4 linked regions of the Homo sapiens genome follow. The protein of the gene in region 4 purifies or fractionates together with the protein of the main gene of each other region. This does not show direct contact. Each region holds a gene or a part of one and is shown on either strand. Other genes may lie near its edges. The genes, in order: EPN3, SLC2A4, EPN1 and EHD2.

Evidence for each region.
Region 1: the proteins of EHD2 (region 4) and EPN3 purify together in Homo sapiens (affinity purification with western blotting, with the first as the bait; one study listed by BioGRID). This does not show direct contact.
Region 2: the proteins of EHD2 (region 4) and SLC2A4 purify together in Homo sapiens (affinity purification with western blotting, with the first as the bait; one study listed by BioGRID). This does not show direct contact.
Region 3: the proteins of EHD2 (region 4) and EPN1 purify together in Homo sapiens (affinity purification with western blotting, with the first as the bait; one study listed by BioGRID). This does not show direct contact.

Annotation. Positions count from the first base shown.
Region 1 is NC_000017.11:50,533,464-50,539,788, reverse strand, and holds part of EPN3 (epsin-3), read right to left. Parts: intron 3,369-6,325; 5' UTR 3,233-3,368; coding exon 2,671-3,232; intron 2,496-2,670; exon of another isoform or gene 2,288-2,495; intron 1,863-2,287; exon of another isoform or gene 1,711-1,862; coding exon 1,592-1,710; intron 1,199-1,591; exon of another isoform or gene 1,035-1,198; intron 906-1,034; coding exon 825-905; intron 603-824; coding exon 474-602; intron 1-473.
Region 2 is NC_000017.11:7,278,679-7,286,727, forward strand, and holds the start of SLC2A4 (solute carrier family 2, facilitated glucose transporter member 4), read left to right. Parts: upstream 1-3,039; 5' UTR 3,040-3,256; coding exon 3,257-3,289; intron 3,290-4,566; coding exon 4,567-4,683; intron 4,684-4,794; coding exon 4,795-4,967; intron 4,968-5,059; coding exon 5,060-5,184; intron 5,185-5,295; coding exon 5,296-5,411; intron 5,412-5,538; coding exon 5,539-5,701; intron 5,702-5,806; coding exon 5,807-5,994; intron 5,995-6,156; coding exon 6,157-6,261; intron 6,262-6,409; coding exon 6,410-6,511; intron 6,512-7,026; coding exon 7,027-7,230; intron 7,231-7,747; coding exon 7,748-7,951; 3' UTR 7,952-8,049. UniProt on the Homo sapiens protein: Insulin-regulated facilitative glucose transporter, which plays a key role in removal of glucose from circulation.
Region 3 is NC_000019.10:55,683,434-55,690,939, forward strand, and holds part of EPN1 (epsin-1), read left to right. Parts: intron 1-1,962; coding exon 1,963-2,212; intron 2,213-5,436; coding exon 5,437-5,561; intron 5,562-5,863; coding exon 5,864-5,938; intron 5,939-6,433; coding exon 6,434-6,517; intron 6,518-7,506. UniProt on the Homo sapiens protein: Binds to membranes enriched in phosphatidylinositol 4,5-bisphosphate (PtdIns(4,5)P2). Modifies membrane curvature and facilitates the formation of clathrin-coated invaginations. Regulates receptor-mediated endocytosis.
Region 4 is NC_000019.10:47,720,899-47,728,404, forward strand, and holds part of EHD2 (EH domain-containing protein 2), read left to right. Parts: intron 1-4,913; coding exon 4,914-5,326; intron 5,327-7,506. UniProt on the Homo sapiens protein: ATP- and membrane-binding protein that controls membrane reorganization/tubulation upon ATP hydrolysis. Plays a role in membrane trafficking between the plasma membrane and endosomes. Important for the internalization of GLUT4.

The sequences.
Region 1 (6,325 bases), on a different chromosome or scaffold from region 4:
AGCTTTGGAGGGCAGCCTTGCACTCAGCAGCTGCCCACTCCCCATGCGGAGAAAATATGTCCATGAGCCCGAGGTGTTTTCAGCACCATGTGCTTAGGCCAACCCTAGTCTTGATTGACAGTATCACATAATCCTAGCATGTCAGAGCTGGAACTATCCAATAAGCACACTGTGCAGAAGGGGAAACTGAGGCCATGACAGTGACATGCCCCAAGTCATAGAGTAAGTGGCAGCAAATCCAGAACCCGAATCCGGGGGTCTCCAATCAGGAACCTTTTGCATCCCACTTTGCTGTTAACTCAGTCACCAGCCCATGCAATGTGGGACTAGGGCTGCTACACCCCCACCCCTATTTCATCGAATAAACACATCAGTGCTTACTATATGCCAGGCACTGCTCTGCTCTCTCTTTACAAATACTCAGTCCATCTCTTAGGCCCTGTCCATCCCAAGCACCGCAGCCCACTCCCTACCTGGCTGGTTTTTAGCTTCTCCTCCTCCTTTCTCTCTTCTCTCTCAGGCTCTCTGTCCCGCTGATGGTGGACCACGGCCCCTGCACCATTGGCCATGGGGGAGCCATCACCCTGCCAGGACCTCACCTCCTGCAGAAGGCACAGAAAGAGTTAGGAGCATGAGCAGCTCAGGCGGGAATCCGGGGACCTGTGCACCAGAGGCTGGAGTCGAGAGAGTGCAGGGTGGGAGGCAGCTGAGAGGTTAGGAGCAGCAGGGCCACCGGGTACAGCGGGAGGAGGCTGTTAGTGCCCTGAAGCACCTCCACCAGCAGCAGCAGCAGCACCGGCAGCCCAGCGGGCTCGGCCCACTACCTTCTCGTGCTCCTGCCGGCTCAGGCGCAGAGCCAGCTGCAGCTGCAGGTCCTCGTCCCTGTGGGAGGCTGGGGGGACAGGCTGCGGAGGAAGAGAGGGGTAAACTTGGCCCTGTACCCCCACCTTGGGACCAGAAGGGCAGTATAGGCCTGCCTGGGTCATGGGGATGGAGACACTAATGCCCACCCTCAGTGTGCATGGGCCATTTGCCGCTCAGTCAGCAGGGTGGGCGTGGCCTTCTCCCTGCCTGCATCTGAAATGCAGTTTAAAGGTCAGGAAGACTGATCTTTCGCTTCTGAATCCTCTGAGAGTTCCTCAGGCCCTCCTGTGTGAGGCCCAGCTGCTTCCTGCCTGGTCTTCCTGGATCCACAGAGGTAATGGCAAAGATGATGATATCGGGGGCCTGTCCTTGTCTCCCCAAAAGGATAGCTGGTGGGCGGGGGTGGGAAGCATATCCCAGTGTCTCCTAGGAATATGTCTGAGCACACTCACCCACTCCACCATGAGGTGGTAGCAGGCACCCCAAGACATAGCATGTGCCCCTAATTGTACACTCGCCACCCTTTCCAGGCCCAGTGGAGAGGACTGGAGGCAGGGAGGCAGTCCCTGCCTGCGACAAACCGACAGAGATAATGGGTCTTGTGCTGTCCTTGGGCACAGGACTGGGGCTTTGGGTGACAGAGCCTGAGTCAAGGCCAAGGGGCTCCCAGGCACTCTCTCCCCCTAGCCCATCCCCTCCCCACCGCAGTGGGGCTGCATGGCCTCACCTTCTCTGCCTCCTCACGGCTCATGGCGAGGGCCAGCTGCAGCTGCAGTTCCTCTTCCCCTGACGTCTGAGGCCGGGCCTGCTCCAGGTCGGAGGTATAGCGGGGTGACGAAGAGGAGGCTGCAATGACCATCATGTCTCTGTGACCACACGATTACCCATCGGCTCCCACACCCCTCTGCCTGCCAGGAAGCTGAGGCTCAAGAGAACTGAGAGGAGGGGAACAACGGCCGTTGAGGCCCCCGTGGGCCAAGCAGTGTGCCAGGCACTCTGTAAGTTCCCCATCCCAACCCATCCCGGATGGAGGGGCGGCTCCAGTCCCTCCTTAGCAGATGCACAGGCGGCACTTAGGGCCCCTGACCAGGTTCCTGAAGCAGGACTTGAACCCAGGTGCCCTGACTCCAGCTCTTGGACTTCCAGATGGACCCTGTCCTGGCTTGGGGGCAAGGGAGGTGCAAGGATAGGAGGTTCTAGTCCAACGAGGTCACAACCTCAAAGCCCTCAGCAAACTGTCAAGGGCTTTATGGAAGGCGGGCCATTCTGAGTATTCCTCAGATCCTGGAAGCCCCCATGACTGGGGGCAGGAGAGTCAGGGACTGTCTAGCCGCTGCCCTCAGGTAGGGGGATGAAGGGGAATGCCATGTGTCTGGGTGCAGGGTAGAGGACGTTCCTGAACCTGGTCTCATTTCATTCTCAGATCAAACAATGGAGGTAGGTGAGCTTATCCCCACTGTACAGATGAGGAAACTGAGGTTCAGAGAACTGGTTGCCCAGGTCACACAGCTTGGAGGAAGCAGAATATAGAATGCTATCTGACTCCAAACCCATGCTTCCACTATCGCGCCATCCTATCAGGCAGCTAACGAATGATAATGAATCTATAACAACGTTATTATCTGAGCTAACTTGTTGAGCACCTCCTATGTGCCGGGTGTTGCGCCTTGCGTGTTACATTCCTTATGTCTGAATCTTCATAACACCCCTCGGAGGTAGGTATTATGAACCATGGCTTGGATTGCAGAGCCAGGAATGGAAGTCGGGCCACCTCCCCATCCCAGCCACACACCGGGGCTTACTCACAGTTGTAGGAGGACGGGGAGCCCCGGGAGCGGCTGTAGTCCTCGCCGTAGCGGCGGCTGAAGCCCAGCTGCCCACTGCCAATGCCGATGCCCTCCAGTGCCATGCGCTCCTTGGTCTTGAGGGCGTGGGTTCGCTCCTGCCGCAGCCGCTCCTCATCCTTGAGCAGGGCCATCACCTGCTTGACCTTCTCGCGCACGTTGACGCCCTGGTCCTTGCCGTCGCGGTCGATGTACTGGAAGTCCTTGAGTGTCTGGATGGTGTAGAGGTTCTCGCGGCACTGGTGGGCCACCCGCTCGGAGCCCGTCTTGAGCAGGTAGTCCAGCAATGTTAGAGCCTTGTACACGTGCCGCCAGTTCTTGCCGCTGTCATTGAGCCGCCGCCACAGCATGCCCATGACTTCGGTGAAGGCCACTGTGTTGAAGGTCAGGTCAGCGATCTCGGACATGAGCGAACTAGGGGGGCCCCAGGGGTCATTGCTGGTGGCCTCGCGCACCTTGATTTCTGCCTCGGAGTAGTTGTGCACGATGTTCTTCACCTGGCGCCGGAGTGCGGAGGTCGTCATGGCTGGAGACTTGGAGGTGGGTGGCCCTCGCCCCCGCCGGAGGTGGAGGGCTGAGGGCCACTGTGGCGAGGTCACAGTCTTGAAGGATGGGCTGCCGTGTTAGCAGAGCAGCTGCATCCTTGGGTTCCACATGGGGCTGAGGAAGAGAGGGCCAGGAACTCAGGGGCAGAGGCCTACCTCATGGGTCACTCAGCCACTGACCAACTAAATGAGGCCTGGCCAGAGTGTCCCTGCCTCCAGGGACAGCCTTCAGCGGCACACGTTCTTATTTCACTTACAATTCAGCAGGCACTTGGAGCTTTGCATGCTCATCTATCTATCTTCACAGCCACACCCCAAAGATGCTATTATCATTACCTCCATCCACAGATGGGAAAGGTGGGGCTCAGAGTATTAAATGGGCCCGGTGCAGTGGCTCACGCCTGTAATTCCAGGACTTCAGGAGGCCAAGGCAAGAGGATCACTTGAGGCCAGTAGTTGGAGGCTGCAGTGAGCCATGGTCAGGCCACTGGGCAACAGAGCGAGACCCTGTAATATTAAGTGACTTGTCCGAGATCACAGAGCTGCTGCATGGGGAACCAAGATGACCCCAGGAAGCCCCACCTAAGAGTGCATGGCCTCATGGGGGAACGCTAACAGGATTCCAGGAATGCCCGCTTGCCTTGCTTCTGCTCGGCCACTGCCTCTGTTTCTGCTGAGATCTAGCTTAAGACCTATCCTTCCTAGCTCCTCAGCTCACTTTTCTCATATTGTTAATTTTTGTAGTTTGATGCATTCAACACCTATTTCCCGGAGGCCTTTTCTGAGCCAGGCACCATGCCAGGCACAGAACACACGCCTTGGTCCACCCACGTTCAGTTGAGAGGGTACAGAAAATCACAGTCCAGTGTGGGAGTGCAGAGCCGCACAGGAAGACCCAAGCCAGGAAAATCAGGGGAGACTTCCTAGAGGAGGTGGTGACAGAGCTGAGATCCAAGATCACAAGGGAAGAGTAAGGAGGAGTGAACCAGCAAGTCAGGGGAGGGCGGCTCAGAAGAAATGCTATGACCTGGGCCAGAAGGCAAGAGAGCAAGTATCGTTTGAGGAAGACTGCCCCTCAGAGTTCTGGCCACTGCCAACACTCCTGCATGCCACCCCCACGTACACATGGAAGTGTTGAGGCCAGAGAGGGGATGGGACCTGCCTGCATCATATGGCACGTAAGTGGCAGAGCCTGGACTACCATCCAGGACTCCAGAAGACTAATCCAATTCTTATTGTCAGTGTTACCCAGTTTGGTCATTATTTCATCGGATTGCTTTACTGTCTCAGTCCCACCTTCTCAGCTAGAATGGAAGCTCCCTGAGAGTAGGAACAGTCTGGGTTCTCCAAAGCCCCAAAACGCTGGACACATAGTGGACCTCTGGTACCCCAGCAGGGAGAAGAGCTGGGCCAGCCCAATTCCCCCCAGTAGCCACAGGTCCAGGCTATCTGCTGAATACAACTCCAGGCCCAAGGTCCTCCCAAAGGCCCTTTCAGAAACCAAAAGAGGAATTCCCTGACCACCACCATTCCTCCCACACTAGCACTGGTGTGTGCATGCACACACACACTGTCTGGGCCTGCAGAGCCTCCACTTCACCCGTGAACTGTCCCCCACCCACCAAACACCTTTCGGCTCCACCCTCCATCCCAGCCCGTGCCCCAACTGGTCCCCAGGCTGCCAGAAGCAGGAATCTGAAGGAGACTGTCCTCTCGCACCCGATTCCACGCTCCTTCCACCCCAGCCCCGCCAGTGCTGGGCTCAGTTCAAAGCAGCCCCACGCTTTGAAAACATGCCTTGGCAGGTTTTGTTGGGGGCCCAGAGAATAAGATACCGTGGGAGTGGGCGAGGTGGAGAGTGCCTGGCCCACAGCGCAGCCTACCTTTTGTCTGCTATCTCTTTCCTTCCAGCGGGTCGTGGGCCTTCTGTGGGAATGCCACGGCCACAACTTGTTTAACTCCTGCCCTCCCCCTTGCTAGTGACTCAGACCTGCCTTCACCTCCCCAACCCGTGGCTGGGGGTGGCAGAGTCAAGATGGGAAATAATGTGCACCAAAGCCCGCCCAGCACACGCCCCTACCGGCTGGCCGCTGGAACTAGCAGAACCAGTCGGGCACTGTGACTGCACCAGAGCCCTACCTGGACCTGGCTGCCCTGGCCCTCCGGCCTGGCCTGTGTGGGGGCACCAGCCTCTGGGAGGGGACTCTCGGTGTGGGCCCAGCGGCCCTGCCTGGACCTTTCTCACAGAAGGTGGGCATTCTCTGCACACCCCTGCAGGGGCTGGGGGGAAGGGCGGGGCCAGAAACATGGGGAGGCACCTTGATTTTCCTTCTCTGGAGTTTGAGGGGACAAGGTGAGGCTGCCCAAGCACAGAGAAGGGAGGAGGAAAGGAAGAAGCCTGCCCAAGCGCAGAGAAGGGAGGAGGAAAGGAAGAAGCCTGCCCAAGCGCAGAGAAGGGAGGAGGAAAGGAAGGAACGCGGGAACGCGGGAGGGAGCAGCTGGGAGCGCTGCCAGCAGTGTTACAAGCAAAGGGTTTTATCGAACACGATATGCCCAGAAATAAAAGGGAGTGTAACAGAAACCCAGCGGCCGATAAGGCGGTGGCGGTAGCAGCAGCAGCCCTGGGCAGCTGGGTATGGAATTACTGCAGTGACCTTGAGCCAGACCCTGTCAGGTGGAGGGAAGGGCACAGAGAGGGCAGGGCCTGAGAATTCAGAGATGACGAGAGGGCAGAGGAGGGAGGAAGCTGAGGGGATGGGAGCAGGGCCAGCAGGCGGTGGGATGGGCCACGGGGCACGGAGTATCAGCTCTCTCCTGCATACAGGGTCCCAAGGAGAACTGCGCAGTAGGGAGGGGCTGCTCTTCTCAGGGCCTGCAGGATGGGGGGATCTGGAGAGTTTCCCAAAAGTCAGGACCGAAAAATGCAGATCGCTCATCCCCAGCAAGGGTTTCGGAGAGATGGAGAGAACCCAGATCTGTCCAGTCACACGTGCATGAGTTTGCGTAAAGTCTGTGCACCCACCAGCCCAGCCCACACCCTCTTCCCGTCCTCTGCTAAGGTGGGCTCCAGCC
Region 2 (8,049 bases), on a different chromosome or scaffold from region 4:
AAATGTTTGGGCCGGGCGTGGTGACTCACACCTGTAATCCCAGCACTTTGGGAGGCTGAGGTGGGCAGATCACTTGAGGTCGGGTGTTGAAGACCAGCCTGGCCAACATGGTGAAACCGTCTCTACTTAAAATACAAAAATTAGCCAGGCACAGTGGCGCAAGCCTGTAATCCCAGCCACTCCGGAGGCTGAGACAGGAGAATCACTTGAACCTGGGAAGCGGAGGCTGCAATGAGTGGAGATCGCCCCACTGCACTCCAGCCTGGGTGACAGAGCGAGACACTGTCTCATAAAAAGAAAAAAAAAAAAAACTTTGCACACAAAATGATTTATATTTTGTAAGAGCACAAAGAAAAAAATGAACATTTAATGCACTGGAATAATTGAATGCATTGGAATAAGCATTTGGGTGTGGTGAATCGAACGTGTAGTCTTAGCTACTTGGGAGGCTGAGGTGAGAGGACCGCTTGAGCCCAGGAAGTCTAGGCTGCAGTGATCGGTGACTGTGCCTCTCACTCGAGCCTGAGCAACAGAGACCTCAACTCAAAACCAGTAAAATCGCCGGGCATGGTGGCTCACGCCAGTAATCCCAGCACTTTGGGAGGCCGAGGCAGGTGGATCACCTGAGGTCGGGAATTGGAGACAAACCTGACCAACATGGTGAAATCCCCCATCTCTACTAAAAATACAAAATTAGCTGGGCCCGGTGGCGCATGCCTATAATCTCAGCTACTCGGGAGGCTGAGGCGGGAGAATGGCTTGAACCCGGAAGATGGAGGTTGCAGTGAGCCAAGGTTGTGCCATTGCACTCCAGCCTGGGTAACAAGAGCGAAACTCTGTCTCAAAACAAACAAAAACAAAAATAAAAATGAGACATAGATCAGTGAAGACAGTGTGCTAATAACTGTCATTCGTTCAATCTTCTGTGCTGGAACTCAGGGATCAAGGTCCCCAGAAGCCGGAAACAAAGTGAACCTGTGGAGCAGGAACTGGGTGAGGAAGCTTTCTTTGAAGGATGAAGAGGAGTCCTTTGGAATTCCGGATTTTTTTTTTTCTTCTTGAGACGGAGTCACTCTGTCGCCAGGCTGGAGTGCAAGGGCACGATCTTGGCTCACTACAACCTCCACCTCCTGGGTTCAAGCCATTTTCCTGCCTCAGCCTCCCGAGTAGCTGGGATTACAGGTGTGCATAACCACGCCCGGCTAATTTTTGTATCTTTAGCAGACATGGGGTTTCTCTATGTTGGCCAGGCTGGTTTCAAACTCCTGACCTCAGTCGATCCACCTGCCTTGGCCTCCTAAAGTGCTGGGATTACAGGCATGAGCCACCAGGCCGGGCCGGCATTCCAGATTTTTCAGGGGATTAGTGCAGCAAAGGAATCAAGAAGGGATGTAAAGGCACAGTGTGTTCTGGGTACAATAAGGACTTAGGCATTGCCCAGAACAGGAGGCGAAGGAGATAGAAGGAGAGGCAGGAGAGATAGGTAAGGCCAGAGATCGGATAAGAGAGGCAGGAGGTTTTGTTCACTCTGAAAAGGGATTTGAACTTGGCAATTGGGGCAACAGAGACAGTGACTTCTTGCTTGAGAGATGAGATTGGACCTTCGAAAATTGTTCTCTGCCCTCGTCATAAAGGAAATAAGAGGAGCACGAAGACCAGTGAGGGTGATGGTGATCTGGACTGAAGTGGCAGCCGCCACGGAGAATATCGGATGAATGTGAGAGAGTTTTGGAGGTCAAAGCACCAATGTTGGAAACTAACTGGATAAACGAGGAGAGCGGCGCAGGACAGGAGGAATCGAGCCTGACTTCTACCATAGGGGTGACTGGGCGGGTAATTCATTGAAATAAGGAAGTTAGGAGGAGGAGCAGGTTTGGACATGCTGATCACTAGAGCTGCCACATCCGGGCGGTAACGAACACCTGGATCTGCAGCTCCAGAGAAGGGCCTGGGTCAGATGTCACTGAAGCCCTATGGTGGCGGAAAGGCGAGAAATAGTGGGTTGAGATTCCAAGTGCAATCCACTGCGGCTCCTCGCTCGCCCTCCAGGTGGCAGCACAACCCTGCGCTTCCGAAGCCCGTTTTCTGAGCCAGACACTCTCCACGCTCTGGGTATTTCGGCTTCTCTCTCCCCACACGCCGACCCTAGGTCGCGCACTTTCTGCCTGGCAGAATTTGGCCGAGGATCCAAACCCGGAGCAGCCTCCAGAGAGCGTGTCGTTCACGCGGCCAGCATATGCTCAGAGACCTCAGAGGCTCAGAGACCTCAGGGCTGGTGGTGTGGTCGGTTGTGACCACTTGTCCCTCGGACCGGCTCCAGGAACCAACCTGGGGAATGTGTGTAGGGGAAGGGCGGGATAGACAGTGCCCGGAGCAGGGAGGCGCTGAAAGACAGGACCAAGCAGCCCGGCCACCAGACCCGTTGTGGGAACGGAATTTCCTGGCCCCCAGGGCCACACTCGCGTGGGAAGCATGTCGCGGACTCTTTAAGGCGTCATCTCCCTGTCTCTCCGCCCCCGCCTGGGACAGGCCGGGACGCCCGGGACCTGACATTTGGAGGCTCCCAACGTGGGAGCTAAAAATAGCAGCCCCGGGTTACTTTGGGGCATTGCTCCTCTCCCAACCCGCGCGCCGGCTCGCGAGCCGTCTCAGGCCGCTGGAGTTTCCCCGGGGCAAGTACACCTGGCCCGTCCTCTCCTCTCAGACCCCACTGTCCAGACCCGCAGAGTTTAAGATGCTTCTGCAGCCCGGGATCCTAGCTGGTGGGCGGAGTCCTAACACGTGGGTGGGCGGGGCCTTTTGTTCCAGGGACTCTTTTCTCAAAACTTCCCAGTCGGAGGCTGGCGGGAACCCGAGAGGCGTGTCTCGCCAGCCACGCGGAGGGGCGTGGCCTCATTGGCCCGCCCCACCAACTCCAGCCAAACTCTAAACCCCAGGCGGAGGGGGCGTGGCCTTCTGGGGTGTGCGGGCTCCTGGCCAATGGGTGCTGTGAAGGGCGTGGCCCGCGGGGGCAGGAGCGAGGTGGCGGGGGCTTCTCGCGTCTTTTCCCCCAGCCCCGCTCCACCAGATCCGCGGGAGCCCCACTGCTCTCCGGGTCCTTGGCTTGTGGCTGTGGGTCCCATCGGGCCCGCCCTCGCACGTCACTCCGGGACCCCCGCGGCCTCCGCAGGTTCTGCGCTCCAGGCCGGAGTCAGAGACTCCAGGATCGGTTCTTTCATCTTCGCCGCCCCTGCGCGTCCAGCTCTTCTAAGACGAGATGCCGTCGGGCTTCCAACAGATAGGCTCCGAAGTAGGATTCATCATGAGGGGGCGGGGCGGGGGGGCACGGGTCCCGCTTTTCTTGGGCTGGGGTCGCGGTTGGGGTCAGCTGGGGGTGGTTCCTGCGCAGGCGCAGGGGGTGAAGGTAGGGGGCTGGCTATTTATACCCGGCCTGGACAACCCGTGACTGTGAGATTCCAATCCTACCAAAAGGCAGAGTGGGTCTGGAGGGCCTTTCGGGGCACAGGCAGCAAGTGGATTCTGCGAGCCAGGGTTCACCCCCTTGCCTAGTAGGCGGCGCGGCGCTCCGGAATCGGGGACACCCTGCCCTCGATCCGACTCGGGAAAGCAGATCCAGGCGGGTCTTGCCCTCCGGGAGCTGTCCGTCCGTCTTCGCTCACGGGCAGTGTTTCGAGGACCGGAGGCTCTCCGTGGGCCCCCACCCCCACTCCTGGCCGCCCTCCAGGACGCTGAACTTTCCCTTGGCCCCATGGTTGGTGGAGGGGCAGAGGGGACTGTCAGCCCCCCCTCCTCCAGCTCAGGTTTCCGCTTGGAGACAGTCTGTGCCGCCAGCGAGCGGCCACCACTGCCACCGCCCCTCACACTACCTTCCTGCCCTCCTCCCCTGGGCATGGCTCTCCCAGGCAGAACCCCTGGACGGCCCTCCCTGCACGGAGGTTAGAGGGGGAGGGCAGGCCACGACGTAGATAGAGAAGGCCACCCCTAGATGACCGGGATGTCCTTTCTGGAACAGCACTTCTTGGTCCTGTTGGGGGCCTCCTGGAGCTGGCTGACAGAACCCCCAGAGGGGAGGGAAGAGGACAGTGGCTGATGATAATAATGCACGTGTTAATTTATGAAACCAGCACTGTCAAGGATATTGTTAACATGTGATGTTGATTTTCACAACACTCTCACAGATAGGTAGGCAAGGCAGGCAACATCACCCCCATCTCACAGAGGACACTCAGGTTCGGGGCAGGGAAGTGACTTGGCCAAGGTCACACAAATCTGAGCTCTTAAGGCCAAGCCTGTCTCAAGGTCACAGAAGAATTTTGAGACAAGTTCTCAAACATTTCTCTGCCTTATGGACCCAAACATCCAGTTTCTCCTTTATGCCCAGGTTGCAGTTCAGCTCCTGTTTACATTGAGATCTTTGTGCAATTCCTAATATGGCCCAGTTTCCCTCACCCAACATGTTGGGTGGAGCCCAGTATCTTCAGGCTCCAGCTGGGCCCGGGCCCCTAGCGGAAGGAAAAAAATCATGGTTCCATGTGACATGCTGTGTCTTTGTGTCTGCCTGTTCAGGATGGGGAACCCCCTCAGCAGCGAGTGACTGGGACCCTGGTCCTTGCTGTGTTCTCTGCGGTGCTTGGCTCCCTGCAGTTTGGGTACAACATTGGGGTCATCAATGCCCCTCAGAAGGTGAGGGCCTGCAGCTGGCAGGGTGGGGGTACCCAAACGAGGAGGACAGGTGTCTCGGGGGTGGTGGAAAGGGGACGGTCTGCAGGAAATCTGTCCTCTGCTGTCCCCCAGGTGATTGAACAGAGCTACAATGAGACGTGGCTGGGGAGGCAGGGGCCTGAGGGACCCAGCTCCATCCCTCCAGGCACCCTCACCACCCTCTGGGCCCTCTCCGTGGCCATCTTTTCCGTGGGCGGCATGATTTCCTCCTTCCTCATTGGTATCATCTCTCAGTGGCTTGGAAGGTTCGCAGCTGGAGGGCAGGGGTGGGGGAAACAGGAAGGGAGCCACTGCTGGGTGCCCTCACCCTCACAGCCTCACTCTGTCTGCCTGCCAGGAAAAGGGCCATGCTGGTCAACAATGTCCTGGCGGTGCTGGGGGGCAGCCTCATGGGCCTGGCCAATGCTGCTGCCTCCTATGAAATGCTCATCCTTGGACGATTCCTCATTGGCGCCTACTCAGGTACTCACGGGCACCACAGCCCTGCCTAGCGCCCTGTTCTCTTTCACCATGCCTGGGCTTTCAGATGGGAATGGACACCTGCCCTCAGCCCTCTCTTCTTCCCTCGCCCAGGGCTGACATCAGGGCTGGTGCCCATGTACGTGGGGGAGATTGCTCCCACTCACCTGCGGGGCGCCCTGGGGACGCTCAACCAACTGGCCATTGTTATCGGCATTCTGATCGCCCAGGTGACCGGAGCAAGCCTCATGGGTGCCTGGGCAGTGGTTAGAGTGGGGCTCTGGAGAATATGGTGGGCTTCCAAGGTAAGGCAGAAGGGCTGAGTGACCTGCCTTCTTTCCCAACCTTCTCCCACAGGTGCTGGGCTTGGAGTCCCTCCTGGGCACTGCCAGCCTGTGGCCACTGCTCCTGGGCCTCACAGTGCTACCTGCCCTCCTGCAGCTGGTCCTGCTGCCCTTCTGTCCCGAGAGCCCCCGCTACCTCTACATCATCCAGAATCTCGAGGGGCCTGCCAGAAAGAGTAAGCTCTCCCGCTGCAGCCTGGCCCAGGCCCATGCCTCCGCCTCATCTTGCTAGCACCTGGCTTCCTCTCAGGTCCCCTCAGGCCTGACCTTCCCTTCTCCAGGTCTGAAGCGCCTGACAGGCTGGGCCGATGTTTCTGGAGTGCTGGCTGAGCTGAAGGATGAGAAGCGGAAGCTGGAGCGTGAGCGGCCACTGTCCCTGCTCCAGCTCCTGGGCAGCCGTACCCACCGGCAGCCCCTGATCATTGCGGTCGTGCTGCAGCTGAGCCAGCAGCTCTCTGGCATCAATGCTGTATGTGTGGAGCAGCCTCCAGGCAGGGCACAGCCCCGGGAGGGTAGACGAGAGTGGGGAGCAAACCCCCTCCACCAACACCCAGGGTAGGGCCAGCCTGTTGTGGCTGGAGTAGAGGAAGGGGCATTCCTGCCATCACTTCTTCTTCTCCCCCACCTCTAGGTTTTCTATTATTCGACCAGCATCTTCGAGACAGCAGGGGTAGGCCAGCCTGCCTATGCCACCATAGGAGCTGGTGTGGTCAACACAGTCTTCACCTTGGTCTCGGTAACTGCTCACCTCTGGAATGGCCCGAGCCACTGGCTTCACCTCCCTGGGTGTCCCGGAGGTCCTGCTCTTGGTTGCCCTCACCCACGCGGCCCCTCCTACTTCCCGTGCCCAAAAGGCTGGGGTCAAGCTCCGACTCTCCCCGCAGGTGTTGTTGGTGGAGCGGGCGGGGCGCCGGACGCTCCATCTCCTGGGCCTGGCGGGCATGTGTGGCTGTGCCATCCTGATGACTGTGGCTCTGCTCCTGCTGGTAAGGCCTGGAGGCTAGGAGGGGCTAGCAGCCCACCCCATGGGAATGGTCCTGTGAGTCTCTGTGACCAGCCAGGGTCCCTTCTTAACACACATGCTTTCAATCCTGGCGCCAGCTCCGGACCAGGACTGGGGCTGACTGGCTCCAGAATCTGCTGGGATTGTGGTCTGCTCCTGAGGGATTTGGGCTGCACTGGGAGGCAGCTGTGGCACAACTCTGGCAGCCAGGAGGGAGAGCCCCTGTCAAGCCTCAGGAACAATCATTCCTAAGGACCCAGCTTTAGAGTCCAGGGAGAGCTGACCGTCATAAGAACTGAGAGGCCATAACATTTCCTCTGCCTTGAACCCACTTGGGATAGCCAGCAGAATGCCAGTCAAGGGCCTGCTCTAACCCGGGACAGCAGGCCCCCTACAAGCTGCTGCGGAGGGGGTTAGGTTTCACTTCTCTGAGTTGAGGGCAAGGGAAGATCAGAAAGGCCTCAACTGGATTCTCCACCCTCCCTGTCTGGCCCCTAGGAGCGAGTTCCAGCCATGAGCTACGTCTCCATTGTGGCCATCTTTGGCTTCGTGGCATTTTTTGAGATTGGCCCTGGCCCCATTCCTTGGTTCATCGTGGCCGAGCTCTTCAGCCAGGGACCCCGCCCGGCAGCCATGGCTGTGGCTGGTTTCTCCAACTGGACGAGCAACTTCATCATTGGCATGGGTTTCCAGTATGTTGCGGTAGGTCCCCCCGCCCCAGCCTCCCACACCGTAGGCCAGAGGTGGGCATCACACAGCTAGCCCACCTGCTTCCCCGTCAGGGACTCCTCCAGCCACAGACCATGGGTCTTTGGGTCAGTTTGGTGGACCACCTGCTCCACAGAATCAAAGCAAGGAAGGGAGCTGACCTAGATTGGATAGTAACTGAGGTGTCTGAAACGCACCAGTGGCATAACTTACCTTACTCCAAGAATAAAATGATACACTTTGCATTAATACTACAAACAGCTGGGACTCTCCTCTGAGTGCAGTAACTGAGGATGGTGAAGAGGGCGAAAACTAAGAGTGTTTGGGGTTCAGAGAATCCTCTTTTCAGTGTAAATTCTCATTCCTGCTCATTTCCCTTGTCCCTGGAGGAGGCAGCTGCTGTCTGCCGTCCCCCCAGCTCCCTATGAAGGCCTTTAGCTCCTGGTTGCCTGAAACTACCCCTTCCCTCCCCACCTCACTCCGTCAACACCTCTTTCTCCACCTGTCCCAGGAGGCTATGGGGCCCTACGTCTTCCTTCTATTTGCGGTCCTCCTGCTGGGCTTCTTCATCTTCACCTTCTTAAGAGTACCTGAAACTCGAGGCCGGACGTTTGACCAGATCTCAGCTGCCTTCCACCGGACACCCTCTCTTTTAGAGCAGGAGGTGAAACCCAGCACAGAACTTGAGTATTTAGGGCCAGATGAGAACGACTGAGGGGCCAGGCAGGGGTGGGAGAGCCAGCTCTCTCTACCCGGCCCAGAGACCCCTTCCTTTCCTCTGCAGCACTTTAACCCTCTCTTCCCTATTATTTC
Region 3 (7,506 bases), 8.0 Mb from region 4:
CTCTGCCTCCCTGATCCACGGGATCCTCCCACCTCAGCCTCCTGAGTAGCTGGGATTACAGGTGTGCACCGCCACACCTGGCCAGTTGTTTTGTGTTTTTAGTAGAAACAGGTTTCATCATGTTGGCCAGGCTGGTCTCGAACCCCTGACCTCGGGTGGTCCACCTGCCTCAGCCTCCCATAGTGCCGGGATTATAGGCGTGAGCCACCACACCTGGCCTCATTTCTCTTTTATTTCAGTGTATGTGGTAGTCCCGCTGTGTGAGCGTGCCATAGTTGATGTATGCATTTCACTGTGCGTGGGTATTCGCACTATTTCCTGCTTCACAATCTTTTTAGCTGCGATACCAAAGTCCAGAGAGCTCTGGAAACGAAAGTGTTTCATGATCCGTTCGGCACAAAGTCTGACCCAGACTGAAGTGAGGTCGTTCACATGGTGTCTGTTGGTCCCACAGTAGTGTGGCTGTTGGCACGACTCTGCCCAGCGCGTTCTCTTATGTGTTGTATGTGCGTTATTTTCCTGGTCTGAACTCAGGAAAATTCTGAATTCCAAAACACAAGGGCCCCAGGAGTTGTGGACCTGGGACTGCCTCTTGGCTTGGGGTGTGATCAGGCATAGCAATGGCTTACCTGCTTTCCTTTCTTTCGTGTAAATACCTTGAGGGCCGGTTAAAGACTAATCTCTGATTACACTGTAAATACTGTTAACACACCTTTGAAAGGCCTTGCCAGAGCTAGGTCCAGCTGCCTCAGAGGGTGAGGAGATATGAATGGCCCTGGCATCTTTCCTGGCAGATTTCTCCTTGGTTCAGACGGAGCTTAGCTGTGATAGCTGACTCTTCCCCTAGGAGCCCTGGGTGGGTTTCTGTGGCTCTGTGAAGGCCCTGGAATCCCCTGCAGAATCAAAGTTGTGCCTTTTTTTGAGGTCAGTGACCAAGACACCCCCTGCAGAGCCTTAAGGGGGCCATGACTCCTCAAGCCCAGGACTTGAGCCTGAGCTAGGGAGAGCCTCAGAGACCTTGGTCCCCCCGCCCCCACTATTAATTTCAACTTGTTGAAAGGGAGTTTGTTTTCGTATTATAAAATACAAACATACCAAAGGGTGCAGATTGAACGATAATGTTCCCTCCGCCCTGTCCTTTTGCTCCTGGTGGTGTGGAACCTGGGTGCCCCTCCCAAGAGAGCCCGGGCCTACACAGGCCCTTGCGTGGATCTCTTCCCTTCTTGCAGAGGTGATAAACTACTGCTCCAGGCTGTTAGTACCAGCGTGAGGTTTTACAGTCAGAAATACACATTTCAAACTAGTACTAAGACCCCCTTCATTGTGATTTAACTAATGTGGTTTTCTTGGCCATGTTACTTTAGATTTTAGTTGTAAAGAAATAGACAGGGCTCCAGGATGCCAGGCGATGCCCATGGCGGCTGTGGTGCCTGTAGCTGCCATTTCCTCTTTTATTTGGATTGAGATGGAGCTCCTACACTGTGCAGCCCCCTTCATATCGCACAGTTCAGTGGCCTTCGGCCCATTCACAGTGCTGGGCGACCACCTCTGTCCAGCTCCAGAACGTCTTCATTGCCCCAGAAGGAAAACCCATAGCCTTCAGGTGGTCCCTCTCCATCCCTCCCTCCACCCCTGGCAACCCACAATCCACTCCGTCTCTCTGGATTTGCCCATTCTGGATGATTCACGTCGATGGAACCGTAGGCTGTGTGGCGTTCTGTGCTGGCGTCTGTCGCTGAGCGCAGTACCTCCGCGGCTGGTCCCCGTCACAGCGTGGGTCTGTGTTCATTCCTTTGCATGGCCGTGTCGTATTCTGTGGGGACAGATGTGTGTCCACCCACTGGCGACAGGTGGGTTGTGGGCCTTGCGCCCAGTCGGCCGCCCCAGAGCCCGCGTCGCAGGCAGTCTCTGGCCCGCCTTGTGCCCGGCGTGCTGACCGGGCATCCCCGTGCCCGCTCGCAGGCCATGACGCTGATGGAGTACCTCATCAAGACCGGCTCGGAGCGCGTGTCGCAGCAGTGCAAGGAGAACATGTACGCCGTGCAGACGCTGAAGGACTTCCAGTACGTGGACCGCGACGGCAAGGACCAGGGCGTGAACGTGCGTGAGAAAGCTAAGCAGCTGGTGGCCCTGCTGCGCGACGAGGACCGGCTGCGGGAAGAGCGGGCGCACGCGCTCAAGACCAAGGAAAAGCTGGCACAGACCGCCACGGGTGAGTCCCTCCCTGCGGCCCCTGACGGCCTAGAGTCTGTCCTCCGCCTACTGCGGCTCCCGGCACCCGGCCGCCCACTGCTTTCTCTCCCAGCCAGGAGGGACCGCGGCATCCCCCTTTGCTTCTCCTCACCTGGGCCCCTTGCTCTGGTCTCACTTGGGCCCTTTTTTTCCCTTAGCACCTCCCATGCAGCAGCTCTGGGACCCTTCCTGCCTCTTGCCTCGTGCCCCAGGGCAGGCCTAGAATTGGGAACTTTTATTCCGCTCCCCCATAGGCTCAGGGCCTGAGGGTGATCAGTGCTGGGGACAGGGCTCTGAGGGGACACGCACAGTGACCCCCGAGGGTGCTGTCCTTCTCTCTGCGCTGAGATGAGGGGAACATCGGAGAGGCAGAGGGGGGCCTGGAAGAGGCACAGAAGGAAGGCCAGAGCCAGGGCCTGCAGGTTGCACCAGGCATCTGGGCCTGTGTTAGGAGCCTTGACAGTGCCTTCTGGAGGTGGAGGACTCAGTCTGGTGGGTGGTGACCAGCACCGAAAACAAAACTTGAAATAGTGCATCCCACATCGTCAAGCCAAGATCTGTCCCACGAAACATTTCCAGTTATGTGATGGGTGTGTGGGTCTCGGACTGTTCCAGGAAGTGTGGTCTGTGTTGGTCGGGGGCTCACAGCCGTGAAGAGGCTAGTCCGGCTGCTCAGGACTGGGAGGGAGGCTGGAGAATGTCTGCCAGGCTCTTCTGCTCTCCAGGAAGAGTGGAGGTGCCTCAGTTAGTGGGGATACGTGGGATGGGGAGGGGCTGCTAGAGCACTGCCCTGGAGGTGGAGGTGGGTCAGCCAGGCCGGTGCAGACAGGAGGAAGGGCCTGTGGCCCTCGTGGGGTCCGGCTCGAGGGACTGGACTTGTTTGGGGAAGTCTAGGCCTTCTGTTTGGACGGGTCTCATTTGGGATCACCTTTCAGCACCCACGGGGAGACATGGGTGTGACGGGGTGTGTGCGACCCTGCCTGGGACTCCAGAGTAGGGACCCACGAGCCAGTAGATGGGCGTGAACGCAGAGAGAGAGTGAAGTGGAGGGAAGGAAGCCGGTGTGGCGTGGGAGTGCTCAGAGCCAGGGACAACAGGAGGGAGTGTAGGCGGCAGAGAGGGGCTGGTCAGCTCGAGGCAGGCAGGCAGGCAGGTGGGTGGCGGGGTTGGGGTGGACGGAGGAGGGACATTGGCAGTAGCTCGGAGGAGAGTGGGAGCCTCAGGTAAGAGGCCTGAGGGTGGGACATCCTGGCTCGGGGGTCGTCAGACTTTGTGCAAGGCCAGAGCTAATGTCCTCTGCGTTGCTGGCCACGCCTTCCCATCCTAGCTGCCTGGCCCCGTCCGCTGGCGGTTGCTGGGAAGCAGCTGCACCCCTCCGACACTCACCAAGGTCTCCGAAATTTGAATTTTATGTAGTTTTCACGTGTCTTTTTTAAGACTTTTAAGTTGTTATTTAATTTTTTAAGGGTACTCTGAATTTTCGCCCATCTTGGTGCATTCTTTTCATTTCTTCCAACCATTGAAAAATGTAAAGGCCTTTCTTAGACCTTCTCAGGCCAGCTGTGGCTGCCACTGTGGTGTGCTGGCCCCTGTCTTGGAGTGAGTTGTGTGGAGGGCTGTGGCTGGGGAGGAGGATGGGGGCAGCTAGGGAGTGAGCCCTGAGACCCTCAGTGGGCAGGGAAGGGCCTGTGGTCCCCGGGCAGCACCGAGGCTGGGTGCTCTGGTGATGGGAAGGCCCGGGTGTTGCTGGCTGGGTGCCAGTATTACCTGTGATGTGGGAGGTGGGGCCCTCAGGGCTGCTGGGCATTGGATTTAGCCACCACCAGGCTGGGGGGTTAGGGGCATGTGCAAGGTAGAGGTTGGGCAATGGGGTGTAGATTCCCAGCACTCACCTCTGAGAGTCCCTAGAGCTTAGGAGGAAGTCACAGGGGCAGGGAAGAGCAGGAGGGGCCACAGGGGTGTGGTCCTCCCTGTGCGCTGGCCTCACCTGTGCCCCACGCTGCCCTTCCATCTGCCCATCCCCTCAGAAGGCCGCTTACCCACCCAAGTCCGTCAATCCCTGCTGGTTCTCTCGTCCTTTCCTCACTCATAACCCCAGATGGTCACCCTTCGGCCCCGCTCTGCCACCCACATGCTCCCTGGAGCATCCCATGCACCCAGCCCTGCTGGGCACACCACACGGGGGCCAGCCTGGGGGCCCCTGGACCCGGTGCAGGTGGGGCCGCCAGACAGCTGCCTGCTGCGGCTCCGGGCAAGGGGAGCCAGGGCCTGCTCGTCAGGGAGAGGCCTGGGCCTGGGGAGTGGGTTGGGTGGGGACACAAGTACAGGACACAGGTGCAAGGCGGCGTCTTGGAGCTGGAGCAGACAGAACTTGCTGACCAGTGCACAGTGGTTGGGAGGGCGGGGCAGGAGAGGCAGGGTCCGCCCTGGGGCTTTGGAGGCTGGGGCAATGGCCCTGTGCTCGGCGGGCCTAGGGCCTGGTTGGAGCCTGTCCTCTGCACTGTGGAGGGGGGCAAGGGTCCACAGGCCTTGGGGGTGGAGAGAACAGTGTCAGGACAGAGTTTGAGGGTAGGCGGGGTTGCTGAGAGGATGCTGCAGTGGAGGCCGGGGATATCTCAGCAGCCTCCTGGAGGGTCCGGCCCTGCCTTCCTGTGTCCTCTCTCTCCCTTCCCCTCCTGCTCTTGGAACCAAGGGCTCCTCGCTAGCCCACTCCCTAACCCCGACTAGGCCTTGGATCCCGCTGTCTCAATGGATGCTGTTCTCCCCTCTGAATTCCAGTTGTTCCCTGCCAGAGCTACCATTCTCAACAAGCCCTGGAAACAGGCCTGGGAAACCTGGGAGGAAGGACCTCCCATCCCCCAGGGGCCCAGGGACAGACCCCAGGCACGCGGAGAGTCCTGGTGGTGGCAGGGCTCAGAGGTTGCTGGGGTTCCCCACCTGCTTATCAGACTGACTTTTGCTCTGGTCCTTCCCTGATGCCTGGCCCCTCCCGTGGGTGGGGCTGCCTGCATCCCCACCCTTCCTCCTCTGAGCACCTGGCGTCTGGTCTCCGCCTCTCAGTCCTAGTCTTGGCCTGCAGAGGTTGTAGGGTGGGGGACTTGGGGGGTGGGGTTGGACACAGAAGCCCCCGTCTGTCTAGGCTATGGGGTTTCCTGTCTCTCGTTCCCTGGTCTGGGTCTCACGCGTTTCTCACCCGCCCTCCAGCCTCATCAGCAGCTGTGGGCTCAGGCCCCCCTCCCGAGGCGGAGCAGGCGTGGCCGCAGAGCAGCGGGGAGGAGGAGCTGCAGCTCCAGCTGGCCCTGGCCATGAGCAAGGAGGAGGCCGACCAGGTACTGGGCGTGCAGCTGGGGCTGTCTGTCCGCCACCCGCCTCCACGCCTCACTTCAGGCTCCCTCCCAGCCAGGCGTGGGCCTGGCCCTCACTGTCGCTGCTCCACATGCTGTCACTCGTCTCCTCCCCAGTCCTGCCTCATCCTCACCCCGCCGTCCCTCTGCGTGTCACTCTCTGCCTGTCCCTCACTGGTTCAGGGACCCCCAGCCCTCTCTTTCTTCGGCTCTATCTGACCCTGGCTCTGCCTCTGACTCTGCCTCTGGCCCCTCCCGTCATGCCCCTCACACTCTCTCTCCCCCAGCCCCCGTCCTGCGGCCCCGAGGACGACGCCCAGCTCCAGCTGGCCCTTAGTTTGAGCCGAGAAGAGCATGATAAGGTCAGAGCAGCCTCCCTGTCCCTGCCCCTGCCAGGGGCTCCCCTCAGACCAGCCCCGTCGCCCCTTCCTAAGTCACCCCCCACCATCCTGCTGGGCCCGAAGCCCACAGGCTCACGCGTGTTGAAACCTCAGTACCTTCAGCCGTAGGATGTAGGACCACAAGTCAGACAGAGCCTGGGTGGTGGCCAGCACAGCTGTGCCAAGGTTGCTCGGGTGACCAGGGTCCCTTCCTCCCCCCAACGCAGGAGATACCACCGAGGCGGGTGCCCGTCCTCCCCGGGTGCGCCAGCACAGCACCCCACTCCCCTTATCCCCTGTCCCGCCTGACCTTTGACCCAGGTGCCCCATCCCCATTTCATACATTGTCCGCATCCCATCGAATCCTTCAGCCGCTTTCGTTGGGGTGGGAGGGGTTGCTGGGGCTTCCAGGCTGAGGTGGCATCTGCCCGTGGCTCACGTTCTCATGTCTCCCTGGTCGTGCCCGTGCCCCAACAGGAGGAGCGGATCCGTCGCGGGGATGACCTGCGGCTGCAGATGGCAATCGAGGAGAGCAAGAGGGAGACTGGGGGCAAGGAGGAGGTGAGCGGGGCTTGTTCTGCCCTCCCTGGCCCCTGCAGGTGTCCGTCCGTCCCATCGCTCATTCCTGCGTGGCCAGGTCCCTGGAGCAGAGACTGAAACACAAGGTCCTGGAGCTGGGCACCGGGTTTCCAGGCTTGGTCGGCCTCTCTGTGCCTCTCCCTCCCTGCTGGGCTGAGGCCGGTGACTGACCAGGCTGCCCTGCGGCCACCTCCTGTGGTCAGCGCTGGCCATCCCCCTTCGGGCTGAGCACCGTGAGGGCCACCACCGGCCGCCACAGCTGAATGGGGAGGCCCAGAATAGGCCAACAGCCTGGCATGGCCACAGGGAGGAGGGTGCAGGGCTCGCCCCATCTGTCACACTTTGTCGGGCACCTCCTTGGTGCCAGGCCGTGTGCTGCACACCCAGGGCCTGTTGGTGAGCGAGGAGGCATGGTCCCGCCCTCGCGAACACTGTTTCTGTGGCGTCCCCATGCTCTGCAGCTGAGTAGCAAACCCTCCCACAACCTTGTGCTTCCAGGTCACGCTTCAGTACTTCCCTGTGACGGGCCCGCTGGCTGGTTGTTTCGTGTCATGGCTGAGGTCACTCATGCCTCTGGGCCCGGGGTGTCCGCACTGGCCTTGCCCTCCAGCCTCCTCCCCTGGCCTCTCCCTGGTTACTAGTCTGTCCTGAGTGTCCTCATAGCACAGTAGCTGCTGCTGCTGCCGCCCCCCAGGACAAGCTCGTCGGGCTGGGTTGGAGTTGCCTCGTCAGCCTGTGCACTGCTATTGGTCTCAGCAGGTCCTGAGGCCAGCCCAAGTTTGAGGGGTGGGGACAAGGCCTCCTCTCCATGGGAGGCGGCAGACAGCTTGTGGCCATAAGTGATCAGGCACAGTGGGACTTTCTTGGTAGACGGAAAGCCTCTTTAGGTTGGCCTCGGCCAGGGGGTCTCTATCAGTGTCCACCACAGCCCAGTGACCCGAGTAAGGGCTGCCCTGCTGGGGGAGCACCAG
Region 4 (7,506 bases):
CGTCTGTGTGTGTGCCTTTGGATTTGGGAGGGCATGGGAGGTTATGTGTGTGCGACTGTGTCTGTGTGGGTGTGCATGCATGTGTGCCTCTGTACCTGTGTGTTCGTGCAGGTCTCTGTGTCTATGCCGTGTGTGCATCTCACATTATCTTTGTGATTGTGTGACCACAAACATCTGTGTAGGTCCCAGATTGTGAACACGGGTATGTCTGGGAGCCTGCATCTTGTAGTAATTGGCTATGTTTGTGTCTGGATGTGCTACTGGGGGTGTGTGTGTGTGTGTGTGTGTGTGTGTGTGTATGCGAGCTCATGTGTGTGGCTGCCTCTGCATGTAAGATGTGTGAACACACGCATGTGTGATTGTAGCATAGTAAAGCCCTCAAATCTGGGCTCTGCTACTTTTATTTATTTATGTTATGCTACTTTTTTTTTTTTGAGATGGAGTCTTACTCTGTCTTCCAGGCTGGAGTGCAGTGGTGCGACCTCGGCTCGCTGCAACCTCCGCCTCCTGGGTTCAAGCAATTCTCTGCCTCAGCCTCCGGAGTAGCTGGGATTACAGGCGCCTGCCACCATGCCCGGCTAATTTTTTTGTATTTTTAGTAGAGACGGGGTTTCGCCGTCTTAGCCAGGCAGGTCTTGAACTCCTGACCTCGTGATCCACCCACCTCGGCCTCCCAAAGTGTTGGGATTACAGGCATGAGCCACCGCCCAGCCTATTTTCTGCTGCTTTTAAACTGTGGGACCTTAGGCAAGCCACTTAACCTCTCTTTGCCTCAGTTTTCTTACCTGCAAAATGGGAATAATGGGCTGGGCGCAGTGGTTCACGCCTGTAATCCCAGCAGTTTGAGAGGCCAAGGTGGGCAGATTACCTGAGGTCAGGAGTTCGAGACCAGCCTGGGCAACATGGTGAAACCCTGTCTATACTAAAAATACAAAAATTAGCTGGGTGTGGTGGTGCTTGCCTGTAATCCCACCTACTCGGGAGGCTGAGGCAGAAGAATTGCTTGAACCCAGGAGGTGGAGGTTGCAGTGAGCCGAGCTCATGACACTGCACTCCAGCCTGGGCGATAGAGTGAGACTTGGTCTCAAAAATAAACAAACAGAAAAACAAAACACACACACACACACACACACACACACACACACACACACACACACACTGGGAATAATAATACTAGCGGCCTCATAGTTGTCCTAAAGGTTAAATTAGTTAAAACATACAAAGCACTTAGAAGGTGCACACTTGTGTGTGCACACAGTAGGCGCTATGGAAGTGCCAACAATGCCTGTTTTCGCTGGGTGAGTGCCGTTGTGGGCCCAAGGTTCCTTTTTGCCACGTCTCCCATCCCACACTGACTCAACCTCTCTCCCTTCTTCCCTCCCCGCCCCATGAGACACACTTTCCGAATCTGGGCCAGTATGTGTGTTTGTGGAGACACCGGGAGGGAGGGGGGGCTCCAGTTGCTGTCCCTCCAGTGACTTGGCCCTTCCTCCCCCAAAACAACGGCCCCCAACCCCATCCCGGTCCCTGCGTTGCCCGCAAGGAGGCTGCTTCCTCTCAGGCAGGATGGGTGCAAGCACCAGCTCCCCGGAGGAGCATAGGGGCCCATGGGACTCCTCTTCTGTCGCCTCTTACCTGTGTGTCTTGAGTAAGTCCCCTAACTTCTCTCTCTTTTTTTTTTTTTGAGACGGAGTTTCGCTCTTGTTGCCCAGGCTGGAGTGCAGTGGCAGGACCTTGGCTCACTGCAACCTCCGCCTCCTGGGTTCAAGTGATTCTCCTGCCTCAGCCTCCCGAATAGCTGGGATTACAGGTGCCCACCACCACACCCAGCTAATTTTTTTGTATTTTTAGTGGAGACGGGGTTTCACTATGTTGGTCAGGCTGGTCTCGAACTCCTGACCTCAGGTGATCCACCCGCCTCAGCCTCCCAAAGTGCTGGGATTGCAGGCGTGAGCCACCACGCCTAGCTAGTCCCCTAACTTCTCTGTGCCTCAGTTTCCTCATCTGGAAAATGGGGTCAGAACAGTGCCCACCTCCTGGGGTTGTTGTGAAGAGTCACTGAGTGAGCTCTAGCTGGAGGGCATGAAGTCAGTAAATCAGGGCTAGCTCCTTGTTCTGCCAGTTAACTCTTCGTCCTCCGGGTTCCCACTCTGCCTTCCCTCCTCCTGGAAGTCCTCCTTGACCCCCAGGCTGGGGGTTGGGTCAGGCACTGGCCCTGGGCTCCCACAGCTCCCTGGATCCCCCTGCCCACCCTGGGCTGACCACTCAGGGGCCAGGTCTGTGTCCCCAGTGGGCTGAGAGATGTAAGGACAAAGCTGAAACTGCCTCAGCCTCCACACACACAGCAGGGACCACAGAGGGTGCTTCCCAGTGGGTGACATCACCATGACTTGCTGAGTGCTTACCGTACATCCAGCACTGTTTTTAAAAAAACAGTTTCATTGAGGATTAACGTACACGCCATAAAAACTCAACCATTATGGCCGGGCTCAGTGGCTCATGCCTGTAATCTCAGCACTTTGGGAGGCTGAGGTGGGCGGATAATGAGGTCAAGAGATGGAGACCATCCTGGCCAACATGGTGAAAACCCATCTCTACTAAAAATACAGAAATTAGCTGGGTGTGGTGGCACCTGTAATCCCAGCTACTCGGGAGGCTGAGGCAGGAGAATTGCTTGAACTCGAGAGGCAGAGGTTGCAGTGACCTGAGATCGCGCCACTGCACTCCAACCTGGGCGACAGCGAGACTCCGTCTGAAAAAAAAAAAAAAAAAAAAGCTCAACCATTTTTTTTTTTAAAGAGACAAGGTCTTGCTCTGTCTGCAGGCTGGAGTGCAATGACGCAATCATGGCTCACTGCAGCCTCCAACTGCTGGGCTCAAGTGATCCTCTTGCTTCCTCCTCCTGAGTAGCTGAGACTACAGATGCATGCCAACATGTGTGGATAATTTTTTATTTTATTTTTTTCTGTAGAGACAGGGTCTTGTCATCTTGCCCAGGCTGGTCTCAAACTCCCAGGCTCAAGCGATCCTCCTGCCTCTACCTCCCAAAGTGCTGGGATTACAGGTGTGAGCCACTCTGTCTGGCCACTTCCATCATTTTTAAATGTACAGTTCAATGCCAGGCATTATTTTAAGCTCTTTATATATATTAGCTCATTTATATTCTTTTAATCTTCACAACAGTCTTTTTTTTTTTTTGAGACAGAGTCTCACTCTGTCGCCCAGACTGGAGTGCAGTGATGCTATCTCGGCTCACTGCAACCTCTGCCTCCCAGGCTCAAGCGATTCTCGTGCCTCAGCCTTCTGAATATGTGGGACCATAGGCATGAGCCACCAACACCGGGCTAATTTTTTTGTATTTTTAGGGCTAGGCTGGTCTTGAACTCCTGGCCTCAATTGATCTGCCCACTTCAGCCTCCCAAAGTGCTGGGATTACAGGTTTGAGCCATCACACCTGGCTTCACAACAGTCCTATGATTTGCATTTTACAGAAAAGAAAACACAAGTTCAGAGAGGTTAAGCTACTTGCCTAAGGTCACACAGTGGATGGGGGCAGAGGAGGGACTCAACTCCAGGTCTTCCAGACAGCTAAGTCAGGGGGTCTCAATCGCTTCTCTCTGCTCTCCTCAGCATTGCTTGTTGGTGAATAAATGAGTGAAGAAGCAAAGGTGAGAATGAGTGGATGAAGGAGTGAATGAGGAAATGAATGGTGAAAGGAATGAATGAATGAGCATGGGAACCCATGGCTGGGATGGGTGCTTCATAAGAGCAAGAATCTTGTCTGTGTGTTCTCTGCGGTATCCCAGGCTCCCAGGACAGGGCTTGGCACACATGAGACTCTCAGTAAGTATTGCTAAATAAATGCAAAATATTTAACTTCTCAGCCTGGCCAACATGGTGAAACCCCGTCTCTACTAAAAATACAGAAATTAGCCAGGGTGGTGGTGCATGCCTGTAATCCCAGCTACTCGGGAGGCTGAGGCAGGAGAATTGCTTGAACCTGGGAGGTGGAGGTGGAGGTTGCAGTGAGCCACATTCATGCCACTGCACTCCAGCCTGGGCGACAGAGTGAGACTCTGTCTCAAAAAAAAAAAAAAAAAAAAAAAAAAAAAAAAAAAAAATTATCATCTGCTATGGCAAGAGCACAGCTATCCAGCATGAACTCTAGTTGCTGGATCGTGGGGAGATACAACAGGTCCTGGGGAGGAGCTGGGGTGATAGAGGCATGTGGCAGGCTTGGGGGTTCCATAGAAGCACAGGGGGATCTCTTAGCAAACATGTCAGTATTTTTAACAACCTATATGTACATACCGACGCACACCTGTAATAACTGCTTAATGAATGAGCAAATGAAAAAATGGAGGCCGTGAGGCTGGGCGCGGTGGCCCACGCCTGTAATCCCAACATTTTGGAGGCTGAGGCAGGAGGATCAGTTGAGCTCAGGAGTTTGAGACTAGCCCGGCAGCCCGGGTAACATAGTGAGATCCCATCTCTACTCAAAAAAAAAAAAAAAAAAAAAAATTAGCCAGGTGTGGTGATGCGCGCCTGCAGTCCCAGCTACTAGGGAGGCTGAGGTGGGAGGATCACCTGAGCTCCGGGAAGCAGAGGTTGCAGGGAGGCGTGATCCCGCCATTGTGCTCGAGCAAAGGAAAAGGGGGATGATTGCCCCCTGTAGCCAGATGGCTTGAGGGGCTGGGGCCAGAGCGAGGGGGGAAATTCTGGGCACTGGAGAGCCAGAGCAGTAGTGCCCACTGAGGGCCTTGGCTATTTTGCCCAGACAGGATTTGGACAGCCAACAACGTGAACATCTTTACAGTCCAATATGCAAGAGAATGGGATACTACTGAGAATGGCTGGAGGGTGGGGGTCTGATTTCTGCCCCTTGCGCCCCTGTCTCTCCACTCCCACTCCAGGCTACGACTTCCCGGCCGTGCTGCGCTGGTTCGCGGAGCGCGTGGACCTCATCATCCTGCTCTTTGATGCGCACAAGCTGGAGATCTCGGACGAGTTCTCAGAGGCCATCGGCGCGTTGCGGGGCCATGAGGACAAGATCCGCGTGGTGCTCAACAAGGCCGACATGGTGGAGACGCAGCAGCTGATGCGCGTCTACGGCGCGCTCATGTGGGCGCTGGGCAAGGTGGTGGGCACGCCCGAGGTGCTGCGCGTCTACATCGGCTCCTTCTGGTCCCAGCCCCTCCTCGTGCCCGACAACCGGCGCCTCTTCGAGCTGGAGGAGCAGGACCTCTTCCGCGACATCCAGGGCCTGCCCCGGCACGCAGCCTTGCGCAAGCTCAACGACCTGGTGAAGAGGGCCCGGCTGGTGCGAGTGAGTAGTCCTGAGGGCTGGGCGCGCATTCTTGGAGGAGGTTTCCTCGGTCCTCTCCTACCAGTGCTGTGAGTCCCTGACTTATCAGGGCCCAGGTTAGTTAGTTCTCTTGAAGTTGGGTCATTCTGGCACAGAGTGAAGCCGGGAGGAAGAACTGTATGGAGAGACTCATTCCTCTGCCTTTGGATTTCTGTGTCAACTCCGTGTCACCCTGGCTTCTCTGTCCTGGTATTTCTATTTCTTCTTCCTCTTCCTCCTCCTCCTCCTTCTCTTCTTCTTCTTCCTCTTTTTCTTCTTTCTTCTCTCTTTCCTCCTCCTCCTCTTCTTCTCCCTCCTCCTCCTCCTTCTTCTCTTTCTTCCTCCCCTTCCTCCTTCCTTCCTTCCTTCCTCTGTTCCTCTCTCCCTTCCTCCCTCCTCCCTTCCTCCTTCCTTACATCCTCTTTCGTTCCCTCTTCTTCCTTCTTTTTTAAGAGATGGAGTCTCGCTCTCTTGCCCTGGCTGGAATGCAATGATGCAATCACAGCTCACCACAGCCTTGAACTCCTGGGCTCAAGTGATCCTTCCTCCTTAGCCTGCCCCAAGTAGCTGAGACCACAGGCACGTGTCACCACGCCCAGCTAATTTTTTATTTTTTGTAGAGTCGAGGTCTTACTGTGTTGCCCAGGCTGGTCTTGAACTCCTGCCCTCAAGTGATCCTCCCCTTTTGGCCTCCCAAAGTGCTGGGATTGCAGGCATGAGTATGTTGAATTTTTGAACTTCCTATAAAATATAGACAGACAAATACTCATTATTCTACCCTCTTTATTTTTTGATAATTTATAAGATTGTGGTTCAAAGGTTTCCAAGTTCATTGGTTTATTCCACAAATATTTCTTTTTCTTCTTCTTTTCTTTTTTTGAGACGGAGTTTTGCTCTTATTGCCCAGGCTGGAGTGCAATGGCGTGATCTCGGCTCACCACAACCTCCGCCTCCTGAATTCAAGCGATTCTCCTGCCTCAGCCTCCCGAGTAGCTGGGATTACAGGCATTCACCACCATGCCCGGCTAATTGTGTATTTTTAGTAGAGTATTTTTAGTTGGTCAGGCTGGTCTTGAACTCTCAACCTCAGGTGATCCGCTCTCCTTGGCCTCCCAAAGTGCTGGGATTATAGGCGTGAGCCACCGCGCCAGGCCCACAAGTATTTCTGGAATGCTTTCTGTACACATGGTGCTGGGGCTGGGGATGGAGGGAACAGACAAGGTTCCAGCCCTCCTGGGGCTCATCTTTTTTTAAATTTAATTAATTAATTTATTTATAAGCTAGTCAAATTTAGCAGTGGGGGTGGGGAGTTGCATGCCAACTTTACTGACACTAATAAGTTCTGATAACCAAGGCCAGGTGCGGTGGCTCACGCCTGTAATCCCAACACTTTTGGAGGATTGCTTGAGCCCAGGCATTGAAGACCAGCTTGGGCAACATAGTGAGACACCATTTCTATTAAAAAAAAAAAAAAAAGTTCTGATAACCCACTACCATTGGACCAGCCCCGGGGCTTATCTTTTGATGGAGGGAGACAGAATAAGTAAACAGACATAAAATAACAATGAAGGCTGGGTGCGGTGGCTCACGCCTGTAATCCCAACACTTTGGGAGGCCGAGGGGGGAGCAGATCACTTGAGGTCAGGAGTTCGAGACCAGCCTGGTCAAGATGGTGAAACTGCGTCTCTACTAAAAATACAAAAATTAGCCAGGTGTGGTGGCGGGCACCTGTAATCCCAGCTACTTGGGAGGCTGAGGCATGAGAATCACTTGAACCCGGGAGGCAGAGGTTGCAGTGAGCTGAGATTGTACCACTGCACTCCAGCCTAGGCGACAGAACGAGACTCTGTCTCAAAATAAAAAAAAAAAAAAAGATGAATTTATTACATCTTAGGCGCTTCACAGCACCCGTCTCCCATGACTCTTGTTTGATTGTGGCCACAGATTGTCCCCTTCTCTCACTCCTTTCCTCTGTCCTCATCTCCCATTCCCTTCCCAGCGTCCCCTGCACTTCACGCTGGTGGCCTCAGTCCTGTGCACTTGCTGCTCCCTCTTCCTGGAAACCTCTTCTGCCTTCTTCCCCCTCCCACCTGGCCATCCACAAGGCTCACTCCCTCCTCACCCCTTTCAAGACTCTGCTCAAATGCTCCCTTCTCAGGAAG